Homo sapiens: one gene and its partners. The gene in region 2 interacts genetically with the main gene of each other region. Each region holds a gene or a part of one and is shown on either strand. Other genes may lie near its edges.

The links. Genes that interact genetically often act in the same process or in processes that back each other up.
Region 1: changes in GPI (region 2) and CIT together harm fitness more than expected from each alone (negative genetic interaction), as found in Homo sapiens cells (one large-scale study listed by BioGRID).
Region 3: changes in GPI (region 2) and ALAD together harm fitness more than expected from each alone (negative genetic interaction), as found in Homo sapiens cells (one large-scale study listed by BioGRID).
Region 4: changes in GPI (region 2) and LIG1 together harm fitness less than expected from each alone (positive genetic interaction), as found in Homo sapiens cells (one large-scale study listed by BioGRID).

What each region holds. Positions count from the first base shown.
Region 1 is NC_000012.12:119,867,321-119,870,820, forward strand, and holds part of CIT (citron Rho-interacting kinase), read right to left. Parts: intron 1,882-3,500; coding exon 1,740-1,881; intron 1-1,739. UniProt on the Homo sapiens protein: Plays a role in cytokinesis. Required for KIF14 localization to the central spindle and midbody. Putative RHO/RAC effector that binds to the GTP-bound forms of RHO and RAC1. It probably binds p21 with a tighter specificity in vivo.
Region 2 is NC_000019.10:34,375,196-34,378,695, reverse strand, and holds part of GPI (glucose-6-phosphate isomerase), read right to left. Parts: intron 1,194-3,500; coding exon 1,110-1,193; intron 962-1,109; coding exon 815-961; intron 1-814. UniProt on the Homo sapiens protein: In the cytoplasm, catalyzes the conversion of glucose-6-phosphate to fructose-6-phosphate, the second step in glycolysis, and the reverse reaction during gluconeogenesis.
Region 3 is NC_000009.12:113,398,485-113,402,467, forward strand, and holds the start of ALAD (delta-aminolevulinic acid dehydratase), read right to left. Parts: upstream 2,801-3,983; 5' UTR 2,728-2,800; exon of another isoform or gene 1-2,727.
Region 4 is NC_000019.10:48,163,845-48,167,344, forward strand, and holds part of LIG1 (DNA ligase 1), read right to left. Parts: intron 1,780-3,500; 5' UTR 1,723-1,779; coding exon 1,706-1,722; intron 1-1,705.

The DNA.
Region 1 (3,500 bases), on a different chromosome or scaffold from region 2:
TGGGATTACAGGCGCCCGCTGCCACATTCAGCTAATTCTTGTATTTTTAGTAGAGACAAGGTTTCACCATGTTGGCCAGGCTGGTCTGGAACTCCTGACCTCAAGTGATCCGCCGCCTCAGCCTCCCAAAGCGCTGGGCTTACACGCATGAGCCACCGCGCCCAGCCACAGTGACTATTGTTTTAAGTCAGTAATATTTAGGGTGGTTGGTTGCACAGCAATGTTGTACAAGGTGGGGTTTCTCAAATTCAGCACTGTTGGCATTGTGGGCTACATAATTCTGTGTTATGGGGGCTGCTTTGTGCACTGTAAGGTGTTTGGTGGCATCTCTGGCCTCACCCATTAACTGACAGTAGGACCCTTCCCCCCAAACTCACACACCACCACCCCCAACTAGCTCTGACAACCGAAAACGTCAAATCACCCACTGGTTGAAAAACACTAATGTAAGAGTATGAAACTGGGACACTAACAGCCAACTGCCTCATCACATGGAAGTCAAGCAAAGTCAGAAACAGGGTGAAGGCAAGGCCAATATATGACTTCATAGGCCCTAGGTACTTTTGCCTTCCTCAGCCCCTTCCTCCATTAAAAACAAAAAAGAATTCAAAAATTATATTTTATGGGGCCAGGCATGGTGGCTCACACCTGTAATCCCAAAGCTTTGGGAGGCTGAGGCAGGAAGACTGCTTCAAGCCTGGAGTTTGAAACCAGCCTGGGTAACATAGTAAGACCCTATCTCTACAGAGAAAAAAGCAAAAATTAGCTGGGCGTGGTAGTGTGAGCCTGTAGTCCCAGCCACTGGGGTGGAAGGATTGCTTGAGCCTAGAAGGTTGAAACTGCAGTGAGCCATGATATACCACTGCAATCCAGCCTGGGTAATAGGGCAAGACTCTGTCTCCAAAAAAAACAAAAATTATATTTTATGACTACATTAGTATAAAGATGAATGTAATCCAGAATCATTATACATTATTATATTCATTTTTCCTATAATTTTAAAACAAATTAAAATTTAATTCAGTTAATTAAAAGTAATTAAATTCATTAAAATTAAATATCACAGATCCTAAGCACCGTGCCTACTCTGCCTAATAGAAAGTCAGCCCTGAGTGAGTATAAGGACAGGGCCACGGGATATTATTGAGGTCTCTGGAACTAGCTATGCCTAAAGCTAAAACTTAACTCATTCCTGGATTTCTCAGTTTCATGAGCCAATAAATTCACTCTTTTATTCACACAGGGTCTCACTCTGTCACCCAGACTGGAGTGCAATGGCACAATCACAGCTCATTGAGCCTCAACCTCCCGGGCTCCAGTGATCCTCCCACCTCAGCCTCCTCAGCAGCTGGGACCACGGGTGCAAGCCACCATACCCAGCTAATTTTTGTATTTTTTGTAGAGATGGGGTTTCACCATGTTGCCCAAGCTGGTCTTGAACTCCTGGGCTCAAGCGATTCACCCACCTCAGCTTCCCAAAGGGCTGAGATTATAGGTATGAGCCATTGCACCTGGCCTAAATTCAGTCTTTGAATTAAGTTTGTCGCTTGCAACCAAGAAGCCCAACTTACCTGGTCTCCCAGCTATAAGAGGTGCAGCCTGAATTTGAACCTGGATCTGTCTTATATAGAACCAGAGTTCTTACCGACTACTATCAACCAGTAACTCATTCTGCCTCAAGCATCTTTCTAGTTTTTCTCTCTCAGGACAGTTTTCAAGAAAAAGTTCCCCAAACTTACACTTCCGGACAAAGTTGCTCACGTGCTTAATCTTCATCAGAGCAGGCTGACTGCATTCTTCAAAGAGAACAAAGAGGGCATCTAATATCCCTTCTCGGGAAAGAGGAGACATCTGCTGTTGAGTCATAAAGGGTGGTTTCCCCTAAAAACAGCAAACAGCAGATGGAGACACTGTCAATAATGAAAAGCTTTGATCAATAACATCCACACAGAGTAAATTACAAGCCACCAACTCAACTAACTGCTCACGACATGCTAACAGCACAATTCTGTGGCTTCATTCTTTAAAGCAACGTCAACTGACAGTCATTATGGTATCACTTCCATGATTCCAAGACTGTGGGTTTCTTTCACCAGCACCTGGGAAGGAAAACTGCACAAGCGTGGCCATTAACAAGAAAAGCTCCCTCACTCCTGAGGGTCTGAGGCTAGTGAGAATATTTCCTCTGGATCCTCTGGCTCTGACATGCTTCCATGTTTCTACAATAGGAAACAATGGGTTTTTCACTTCTTTCATGTGTGCCCAGGGGTTTATTCATATAATTTCAGCTTTTTTAATTCATTTGAACAACCTAGAGTAATAAGAACTGAGTGACCATCGTAAAGCCAAATTTACTCATGATCTGGAGAAATAGTTACAAACTGGCAGACTGTCTCTAGCCCACAGATATGTTTTGTTTGGCCTGTAGTGTTTAAGATAATTTGAATTATCTGCCAATATTTCAAAATCAGGAGATTCCATACAAAAAAATAAAAATGGAGTCTCTGGCTTCTTTTGAAACACTGGCACATCCGGCAACACTGCCTCGCCTTCCTGCCTGATGACGCTGAGCTGGAGCTGAGTAATGCTGCCCCTCCCGGTAGCAGATGTGTTTGGGAGTTCACTGCAGGTCTGACTCCATCTTCCAACTGGCCCACTTGACTCATTTATACTCACTGCCTGGCCCCCAAAGACATGAGTCTGCAACCCTGGTATAGAGCAGTGATTCCCACGTGCCAAGCCATGGATAGTGGTGGTCTCTCTTCAAAGATGGCCTCCAACAGTTCCTCCAATTCTGTAGGCACATGCTACTCCTTACTTTAAGCGCTGGAGTCTATTTCTCCTGCCTTTGAATCTGTGCCATCTCTGAGACTCTCTTCAACCAAAAGAATGTGACACAAGTGACACTGTGCCAGTTCAGGGCAGTGCCTTTAAGAAGCTTGTCAAGCGGCCAGACACGGTGGCTCACATCTGTAATCCCAGCACTTTGGGAGGCCAAGACGGGTGGATCACTTGAGGTCAGGAGTTTGAGACCAGCCTGGCCAACATGGTGAAACCCTGTCTCTACCAAAATACAAAAATTAGCCAGGCGTGGTGGTAGGCACCCGTAATCCCAGCTACCTGGGAGGTTGAGGCATGAGAATTGCCTGCACCCGGGAGATGGAGGTTGCAGTGAGCCGAGATCACACCACCGCACTCCAGCCTAGGCAACACAGTGAGACTCCCTCTCAAAAAAAAAAAAAAAAAAAAAAAAGGCAGCTTAGCAGCTTCCACTTTTGGGAAGCCAGCCACCATGCACAGATGCTTGGGCTAGACCAGGGGTGTGCAATCTGTAGCCCTTGGACCAAATCCAGCCCACGGACTTTTTATAAGTTTTACTGGAACACAGCTACACCCATCATTTACATATTGTCTTTAGCTGCTTTTGTGCTACCATGGCCAAGTTGAGTGGTTGCAACAGAGACTACAGGACCCACAAAGCCTAAAATATTTATTACTTA
Region 2 (3,500 bases):
CCCTGAGGGGCTGCAGTCAACCTGAGGCTCTCTTCGGCCCAGGCTGGAAGGTATCTCAGAATTCAGATGGAATTCTTCATATTTTATGTACATTCATGTGAGTAAATAGAACATAAATAAAAACAAACAAAACCCCTCTATTATCAGGGCATGGCTCTGGGATCAGAAAGGAGCAAGCATGGCTGGGCATGGCGGCTCAAGACTGTAATCCCAGCACTTTGGGAGGCCAAGGGGGGGTGCATCACCTGAGGTCAGGAGTTCAAGACCAGCATGGCCAACATGGCAAAAGCCCATCTCTACTAAAAAATAATAATAATAAATAAATAAATAATAAAATTAGCCAGGCGTGGTGGTGTGTGCCTAGTCCCAGCTACTTGGGAGGCTGAGGCAGGAGAATCGCTTGAAACCTGGGAGACGGAGATTGCAGTGAGCCGAGATCACGCCACTACACTCCAGCCTGGGTGACAGAGCCAGACTCTGTCTCAAAAACAACAACAAGAAAAGGAGCAGGCATAAAGGACAGGTTTGTAAGAAAGTGGCGAGCAGTCCCAGGCTGAGCAGAGATGCCGCAAGGCGAGCGGGTGTGGTCAGGACACAAAGGTTCAAACTGATGTGTTCAGGATTTCATCAGTCAACCTTATTTGCTGCTAGGCATGGAAACAGTCTAGGGCAGCTGTACTGACCTGATCCACAAACCATGGTTCACTCGGAACCCACCAAAAGGGACCAATGGCCAGGGGGATGGCAAGACAGCTGTCCCTCCCCACCCCAACACACACAGGGCCAGGGGCCGGGCAGTTTTCGGCACTCATACCTTGGAGGCAATGATGAACAGGGAGGACTCGGGGTTCAGCTGGGCCAGGGTTTTGGCAATGTGAGTTCCATCAATGTTGGAGACATACCAGACGCGGGGACCTCCTGAAGAGTATGGCTTAAGGGCTTCAGTCACCATGAGGGGTCCCTGCGGGGAGACATAGCATCAGAGAATAAGAATTCAGGGCCCACGAAAAGTGGAGACAGCCAGGTCCCATCCCTGGAGAAAGTAAAGACCTGAGTGGGACCAACAGTGCCCAGACTCCCACCCTACCCCAAGGCAGTTTTCTCCTCACCAGGTCGGAGCCGCCAATGCCAATGTTGATGACGTCCGTGATGGTCTTGCCTGTGTACCCCTTCCAGTCACCGCTCCGGACACGCTGGCACAGGGGCGAAGATGCCATCAGCCCAAACCCCCAGGCATAATCCGCTGCTCAAAAACATCATTACTGCCGTGTCCTGGTACCTCAGTCCCAGCTTTCAGGCCCTCGCAGGTGCCTCTATTTTTTTGTTTTTAATTTACCATATATATATATATATATATATTTTTTTTTTTTTTTTTTTTTTTTTTTTTTTTTTTTGAGATGAAGCCTTGCTCTGTTGCCCAGGCTGGAGTGCAGTGGCATGATCTCGGCTCCCTGCAATCTCTGCCTCCCAGGTTCACGTCATTCTCCTGCCTCAGCCTCCTGAGTAGCTGGGACTACAGGCGCCCGCCACCACACCCAGCTAGTTTTTTGTATTTTTAGTAGAGACAGGGTTTCACCGTGTTAGCCAGGATGGTCTCGATCTCCTGACCCTGTGATCTGCCCGCCTCAGCCTCCCAAAGTGCTGGGATTACTGGCTTGAGCCACCGCACCCAGCTATTTATTTTTAATTTTTTTTTTGAGACAGAGTCTCCACTTTCTGGGTTCTAACAATTCTCATGCCTCAGTCTCCTGAGTAGCTGGGACTACAAGCCTGCGCCACCAGCATGCCTAGCTAATTTTTTTGTATTTTTAGTAGGGACGAGGTTTTGCCATGTTGGCCAGGCTGGTCTCGAATTACTGGCCTCAAGTGATCTGCCCAGCTCGGCCTCCCAAAGTGCTGGAATTACAGGTGTGAGCCACCGCGCCTCGCTATTTACTTATTTTTAAAACTGTGCCTTAGGGGCCAGGCAGGGTGGCTCAAGGCTGAGACAGGAGGATTGCTTGAGTCCAGGAAGTTGAGGCTGCAGCAAGCCAAGATCGCAACACTGCACCTCCAGCCTAGGTGACAGAGGAAGACCCTGACTCCAAAAACAGAACAAAATGCTCTGCTTTAGCCTTTTTTTTTTTTTTTTTGAGACAGGGTCTCACTCCGTCGCCCAGGCTGGAGTACAACGGCACGATCTCAGCTCACTGCAGCCTCCGCCTCCAGGCTCCAGGGTTCAAGCAATTCTCCTGCCTCAGCCTCCCAAGTAGCTGGGATTACAGGCACCTGCCACCCTGCCCAGCTAATTTTTAGTATTTCCAGTAGAGATGGGGTTTCGCCGTGTTGGCCACGCTGGTCTCAAACTCCTGACCTCAGGTGATCCACCTGCCTCGGCCTCCCAAAGCGCTTGGATTACAGGCATGAGCCACCACGCAAAGCCTATTTTATTTTTTGTAGAGACAGCGTCTTGCTACGTTGCCCAGCCTGGTCTCTAACTCCTGGCCTCAAATAATCCTCCCATCTTGACCTCCCAAAGTGTTGGGATTACAGGCGTGAGCCACTACACAAGGCATAGGAGTCTCTGGAGACCACACTGGTCCCTGCCACACTCACCACCAACTAGACTCTTTCCTGGTTACAACAGTGAGACATCCCTACCTTACAGCGACACTGTCAGAATTTGCAAAACCAGGGATAACTCGGCAGAATCTGCTATGCCAGAGACCAAGAGATGTGAAATGTTGAAAACTGTGACTGGGCTATGCTGGGGAAAGGAGTATCAGACCCGCAGCCAGTCTCCAATCAGACACCAGTGATCCTTGCTTCCTGGAATTCATGCCTCTGCATAGCTTCCGCCTGTGCTGGGAGGGGTGACCTATGCACCCATCCAGAGACTGCAAAAAGGGGTGAAATGTGACTTCAGAAGTGAGTTCAGAGAACGTGCAGTTTCTGCTTTGCTCTCTTGGATGACTCGCTTTGGGGAAGCTGTCTATCATGTTGTGAAGACATTCAAACAGTTTCATAAAGAAGCCCACGCGGCAGCGAACTAAGGCCTTTTTCCAAAAGTCACAGCCAACTCGCTTCCTGTGTATGGGACACTTTAGAGGGGGGTCCTCCAAACCCATCAAAACTTCCGATAACTGGGGCGCTGGCCAACATGTTGACTACAGCCTTATGAGAGATCCCCAAACCAAGACCAACCAGCTAAGCCGCTCCCAAACTTCTGACCCACAGACACTGTGAGAGGTAATAAAAGTTTACTGCTAGGCCGGGCATGGTGGCTCACACCTGTAATCCTGGCACTTTGGGAGACCAAGGCAGGCAGATCACAAGGTCAGGAGTTCGAGACCAGCCTAGTCAACATGGTGAAACCCCGTCTCTGCTAAAAAAAAAAAATACAAAAATTATCCAGGCATGGTGGCGTGTGCCTGTAATCTCAGCTACTCGGGAGGCTGAGGCAGGAGAATTGCTTAAATCCAGGAGGCAGAGGTTGCAGTGAGTGGAGATCACGCCATTGC
Region 3 (3,983 bases), on a different chromosome or scaffold from region 2:
GAGCCTGAGACCGGGGCAGGGTTAGAGTAAAGGGAACAGTCTCACTACAGCAGTCCACTTTGATCTGTTTTTGAATTTTAAGATTCAGAGACAGATTTGATTTGAGAAACGGCTGTCAGTGCTGAAAATATTAAAAGCTTGAAAATTGCCAATCCTGTTTAATCCCTTACACTTTAATGTGGAAAATGGGGTATAAAGAGGCAACGGGACTTTTGGAGATCACAGTGAGTGACATACAGAGCTATAAACTGACCCTGCAGCTCCTGGCTTCTATTTCAGTGCCCTGATACCTACACCATAGAGTCATTCCATTGTAAGAGGTACTTAATAAGTGGAGTTTCCCACTCCATTCTGTGAGTGGGAAAACACCCCCTGAATCACATATTGGCAGAGCCAAATGCAGGGTGGGTTTTGCTTTGCAAAAAGGCCCTTAGAGTTTGGGAGAATTTCACAGACTGGGAGGGCACTTCTCCCAAATCAAGCGAGCTTGCAAACCACAATTTAAATGCCTGTGACATTACCACACTGAAGACAGGAGCGAGCCGCCAGGAGGTCCAGCACCTCTGCCCAACCACATCAGACAGGTTAGCTTTGCTGGGACGCAGAGTATAGGGCGGTGCAGAAAGATCCATGTTTCAGGGTCAGACAGTCCCAGGTTTGGTCTATGCTCTGCTGTGTAATTTTGGGCAAAGTAATTGACCTTTCAGTGTTCATTTCATAATCTACAAAATAGGCATGATATCTCTAACTTGCAAGGCTGTGGAGATTATTGATAGGGATAAGGTAGGTGTCTGGCACCAAGTAGCTGCACAGTAAACATGTAGCTACTTTTATTACTATTAGGAGTGGGGCTGGGTTGGAACGAGATGTCCTGGCACAGCTCTGTGCCTTCTGCACCTCACCAGATGGGAATATGAGCTCAAACCCTTGTGGGCCACAGGGTTTTCCAAGATTTCTGAAGTGGAGTCCCTGCCTTCCAGCAGGTTATGTGGTGGAGGAAAAACAAAATAATCACCACCGGGCTGCCAGAGTAGAGGGGTGGACCAGGTGCTGTCAGAGGGACTGTGTCTCTGAGTCAAGGGTGGTTTCATGGAAGAGGGGACAGTGAAGGATAAGAAGTGTTTCAGATTTAATATGAAAGTATCTCCTCCCATGGAAGGCAACATCCCCAAACTGGGAGTAACTGAAGTTGGGCCCTGAGCACTGCTACCAGGAGGGGCTATGAGCTTCATGTGCCACCCCCCACCCCTGCAAGTTGTACTATGCTGAGGATTCCAGAGGCTGTGGGTCTTCGCACAGAGGCTTAGGACCTGCTGCCAGCCCTGGCAGGCTCTGCCACTGGCCAGGGAGGAGGCAGTCAGGAGAGCCAGCTAGATAGAAGGTGGCCAGAACTGAGAAATCCAAAGCCCCACAAAGGCCCAGGAGAGCAGCTGTCATGCAGTTCTGAAAAGAGATGAAGTGTTTATTCAGCCAACCCACATTTCTTGAATATCTACTATGGGCCTGCTGAAGTGCTAGACACAGGGATTAAAGAGAAGAATGAGACCCCAGCCTTGCCCTGGGGCTTTGAAGAGCCTGATCGCCTCTGGGGTTAGCCATTTAGACGTAGGAGAAGCTGCCATTCCCAGAATCCTAGAATATCTTGGCTAAGAGTCTTCTTAAAGTTTGCTGATTGTATCACTGAAACAAGGGTGAAACTGGGCTCAGAGAGGGGTAGACACAGGCCCAGGATCACGCAGTGGGTCAGCGGCAGATCTGGGGGAAGGTCTCCAGCAGCCCAGTCCTCAGTGCCCACCATGACACCTCCATACTTTAAGGATAGATATCAAATCTGTTTCCCAGCAGGTTGGGCTTGTGGAGAGCTTTGGGTGAGCCAGACTCTGGGCCTGGCTGCTGTTGGTAGCAGGATGGTTAAGTATGTGGGCTCTGGAGTCTGATAGATGTGGGTACAAATCCTAGTTCTGTAGCTTTCTAGTTGTGTGACCTCAGTTTCTTCGTTTAGTAAATGGGGACTAGAACCGACCTCAATGGGTTGTTGTAAGAAATGAATGGGTCAGGCCGGGCGTGGTGGCTCACGCCTGTAATCCCAGCACTTTGGGAGGCCGAGGTGGGCGAATCACCTGAGCTCGGGAGTTCGAGACTAGCCTGACCAACAGGGAGAAACCCCATCTCTACTAAAAATACAAAAATTAGCAGGCGTGGTGGCACACGCCTGTAATCCCAGCTAGTTGGCAGGCTGAGGCAGGAGAATCGCTTGAACCCGGGAGGCGGAGGTTGCAGTGAGCTGAGATCGCGCCATTGCACTCCAGCCTGGGCAACAAGAGCGAAACTCCGTCTCAAAAATAAATAAATAAATAAAATAAATGAATGGTCAATGCACGCAACGCTTAGTACAAAACGGCTGTTATTGTTTTCACCTCCCTACCCCCCCACCAACCACCACCCGCACCTCGGGTTCTGCATCGATGGAGTCTGCCCAGGCGGTATCCGAGAGGGTGAACCCCAGAGAAGAGGTGCGGAGCCCCGAACCCGGGCCCCCAACCTCGGCTGCAGCGGGATAATCCAGCCCAAACAAACGCTCCACGGGACTCCGTGCACGGCTGCACCGCCAGGGCTTCAGGCGCACAGCACAATCTGGGGACGCAGGACTCTTGGTGCCACAGTCCCCGCCTCGCCCTGGAGCCGCCCTCCAGGCCCGCTATCTCCCCGCATCCAGCCCCCGCTCACCTGCCTCCCTAAGGGCTCCCGGCCGCTGCTCCTGTCACCGCTGTCTCCCGCTCCGGTCTCCCACAGACCGCGTAAGAGCGGGGGGGGCTCACCCGGAAGCAGCTTCCCCACGGTCCGCCCCCTCCACAGTCCAGGCCACGCCCCCTGAAGGCGGTCTTCTGGGGGGCTCCTCCGCTCCAGCCGCGGCCCCGCCCACACGCAACGAGGCCTGGCCAATTGGGTGTGTCGAGGGCCTGGAGGGCCCGCCCGTCCCCGCTCCGGGCCCTGCGCTTGTGCAGCGAACTGCAGGAGGGAGGCCACGAGGGGGCGCAGGAACCGCTTGGGAGGGTCCCTGGGTGTGAGCCGGCCTCGGAGGCGGTTACAGCCCAGGTTTCACTTCACAGCATTCCTTTGCCCAGCCTAGGGCAAACTTGGCTCTGGTTAATGGCTTGGTGAAAGAATAATTGGATGTCAAAGCCGTTAAAACAGCACCATTATGCCTAACACAGTATTAGCTAAGTCCATTTTTGCGGACTAAGCTAAAGTTGTTGAGTTCAGCGCCAGGCTTCCAAGTTTTCAGAGAAAATTTGTACCAGCTTCATTTATTTCTCAGGGTACGGCAATGCTATGAGTTGAGAGATGTGATGTGAAAGACATGGGCGTTTAGGAAAACTCCAAGTCTTGATAGGGGCATCAGACCTATGATAGGTACAATGATAGATCCGATCAAAGGTCTTTATGGAGATTGGAGATGTGCAGAGGCAAGAGGGATCTGGTGAGGCTTATGGGGCCTGGGTAAACCAGTAGGATTGGATGAGTAAAATGGCGATCGGGCATCATCGCCCTAGCGAAGCAATGCCTTTCAGGTGGTTCTTCAGGGATTATTGAAAAGTTGACTTTCAAATGTAGAGGACACTAGTGGGTTACATTACACTTATTCTCAGATTTTATTTCTCAGCCCGGTTCGGTGGCTCACGCCTGTAATCCCAGCACTTTGGGAGGCCAAGGCGGGCGGATCTCTTGAGGTCAGGAGTTCAAGACCAGCCTGACCAACATGGTGAAACCCTGTCTCTACTAAAAATACAAAAAATTAGCCGGGCGTGGTGGCGGGCTCCTGTAATCCCAGCTACTCGGGAGGCTGAGGCAGGAGAATCGCTTGAACCCGGGAGGCGGAGGTTGTAATGGGCTGAGATCATGCCACTGCATTCCAGCCTGGGTGACAGAGGGAGACTCTGTCTCAAAAAAAAATTTTTTTTTAAATTTCTCAAAATCTGTAC
Region 4 (3,500 bases), about 14 Mb from region 2:
TGAGGCAGGGGAATGGCCTGAACCTGGGAGGCAGAGCTTACAGTGAGCCAAGATCGCGCCACTGCACTCCAGCCTGGGCGACAGAGCAAGACTCTGTCTCAAAAAAAAAAAAAAAAAAAATGTTGGAAGGCGTGAACATTAAAAAAAAAATCTGGTGAAATCTGAATAATAAAGTATGGAGTTCAGTTAAGAGTAATGTACTGACATTAGTATCTCAGTGGTGAGAAACGGATCATAGTAATGTATGATATTGACAATGGAAACTGGCCAAGGGTATACAGGACCTCTCTGTACTGTCTTTGCAACTTTCCTGTACCTCTAAAATTATTCCAGAATAAGAGGTTTATTTAATCTTCAAAAAGAAAAGGAAAAATCATGCAAAAGCCAGTGGACAGAAAGCAATCGAAGGCACCATCAGCCCTGGAGAGACAATCCCCAGATTCCTCATCACGGGAGAAAAACGGAACCCAGCATTTGTGTAAGCCACTACCGCCCAGGTTTCTGGGATGGATGCCCTTGTCTGGGTCTCTCTACCATCCATTTTTTCCTCCTGGTAACAGCCCCTCCGTTTTCCTCTTGGGATGCTTCTTACCCCACATTCTCTCAGTACACACGATTTGAGTGGGCTGGCCCTTTTGCCTGTGACCAGGGGTGGACACGTGATCCAGGCTGCATCCCTGTGGCTGGTTCAGGGATAGGTATGTGGCCCAGGCTGGGCCAGTGAAACTGGGCTCTAACACCCTCTTTCCAAGGGGACCGCTAAGAGGGGAGAGCCCGCCTGAGGGTGAGGACAACCTCAAGGACAGTAGAGCTGAACAATGGAGAGAGACAGATTCCCAGGGAGGAAGTTTTGGCAACTGGATCGAACCAAGCCTGAGGCTGTTTACTCCAGCAGGTTTCAATGATATAAGTCAAGTCATGCCCTTTCTTGTCTTCCTGAAGCCGGACTGCATTAACACGAGGTTTCTCAACCTAGACACTATTGACATGTTGGGCCTGATGGTTCTGTGTTGTTGGGGGGGCTGTCCTATGAATTGAAGGATGTTTAGCAGCATGCCTGGCTTTTAGCCACTAGATGCCAATGGCAAACCCTCTGTCCCTAGGTTGTAACAACCAAAAATATCTCCAGACACTGGCCGGGCGCCGTGGCTCACGCCTGAAATCCCAGCACTCTGGGAGGCCGAGGTGGGCGGATCACGAGGTCAGGAGTTTGAGACCAGCCTGACCAACGTGGTGAAACCCCGTCTCTACTAAAAATACAAAAATTAGCCAGGCGTGGTGGCACGTGCCTATAATCCCAGCTACTCAGGAGGCTGAGGCAGGAGAATCACTTGAACTCATGAGGCGGAGGTTGCAGTGAGCCGAGATTGCGCCACTGTACTCCAGCCTGGGTGACAGAGCAAGACTCCAACTCAAAAAAAAAAAATCTCCAGACGCTGCCAGATGTTCCCTGGGGAGCAAAATTGCTGCTGACTGAGAACCACTGCGTTAGGGTTTCTGCTCCTTGCAACTAAAAACTGTTGTTCAATACACTGTCTTCCATATCCCACGGCTCATTTTCCATACTACTTGACTCCTGGAAATTCCAACTCAAAATCTAACGTAAGAGTTTTTGTTTGTTTGTTTGTTTTTTTAAGTACAGATTTAGAGAAAGAAACAGAGGACTTGGAGAAGGAAAGACTCAGGGGCAAGGGAGGGTGCTCACATGATACTTCGCTGCATGTTGGCGTCAGAATTCTCCCTTCCTGTCCAGCACTTTTCTTCGTCTGTCAGCTGCTCCTGGAACAGAAATCCAAACACTTGTTGAGGTGATTGGTTGTGCAGAGATCTAAACACACATAAAACCCTTTCTTTAAGAAAGAAAGAAAAAAAAAAACAGAAACATGAATTTCCCCTTCAAAAAGAAACTCCTGTTTTTATGAACCAAAATAATTTGCTGGTGAGATTTACTGGTGCAGAATAAAAGCTCCAAATCAGAGAAAAAGATAAGAGGCCTCCTTTACCATAAGAAGACTGTTTTTCATCTAATATGAGGAATAGACTGAGGACCTGAAATGGGTTTTTTTGGAGTTAAGTTTAAAGGTTAGTGAAAAATTGTTTTAAGGTGATGACATAATTCCGTGAAACAACTGTGGAAGCTTATAAAATTGTACCCGCTGGTCTACATAAATTAGCTCTTGGGCAGTTTCTAAGGTATGCTGTTATTTCAAACAAAGGGCAGAATATCACAGAGTGTGTGCTACTGAACTGTGTAAAAGAGAAAGGCTATAGGTCAGGCACAGTAGCTCACGCCTGTCATCCCAGCACTTTGGGAGGCCGAGGTGGGTGGATCACTTGAGGTCAGGAGTTCAAGACCAGCCTGGCTAACATGGCAAAACCCTGTCTCTACTAAAAATACAAAAATTAGCCAGGTGCGGTGGCACGCGCCTGTATTCCCAGCTACTCTGGAGGCTGAGGCAGGAGAATCGCTTGAACCCGGGAGGTAGAGGCTGCAGTGACCCGAGATTGTGCTACTGCACTCCAGCCTGGACAAGAGTGAAACTCCATCTCAAAAAACAAAAACAAAAGAAAGACTATAAATGTATCCACATATCTTGTATATGTACAGAACATCTCAGTTGGAAGACAAAAAACTGGTAATGCTGTCGCCTCAGGAGGGACAGACGCTGGAGGGAGATTTTTTAATATGCATGCTTTTGCAGGCAGAACAATTGGAATACGTTACCCCTTCACAATATATTTTTAAAAATTAAATACTTTTTTAAAAAGTCTGTTATTTAATGAAATCAATAACAGTCACTGGGGCTTCCACAGTTTAGAGTAACTCTAATGAAAGGGTTCCTAGGCCGGGCGTGGTGGCTGCTGCCCATAATCCCAGCATTTTGGGAGGCCGAAGCGGGTGGATCGCCTGAGGTCAGGAGTTCGAGACCAGCCTGGCCAGCATGGTGAAACCTCATCTCTACTAAAAATACAAAAATTAGCCAGGTATGGTGGTGCACACCTGTAATCCCAGCTAGTGGGGAGGCTGAGGCAGGAGAATCACTTGAACCCAGGAAGTGGAGGTTGCAGTGAGATCATGCACTCTAGCCTGGGCAACAGAGTAACACTCTGTCTCAAAAAAAAAAAAAAAGAAAGAAAAAGAAAGAAAAAGAAAAAGAAAAGAAAGGGTTCTTAATCTGGGGTCCACAAAACCCAGGAGTCCAAGAGCAGAACTCAAGTGGTCTATGAAATTTGACAGGAAAGAAATTACGACTTTATTCTTGTAAACTTCTAATTGGAACTGAGCCTTTCCTTCCATTATAAATATTAAAGATATAAAAAATTATAAATTTTCTATATCTTTAATATTTATAATGGAAGAAAATAAATTACACATTATAATTATGTAATTATAATTATTTACATTATATTTCCTTCCACTATGAATATATTTTTTAAAAAAGGACTAGCAGGACCTCTGCGTGGATTGCTTGAGTTGAGACCAGCTCAGACCAGCCTGG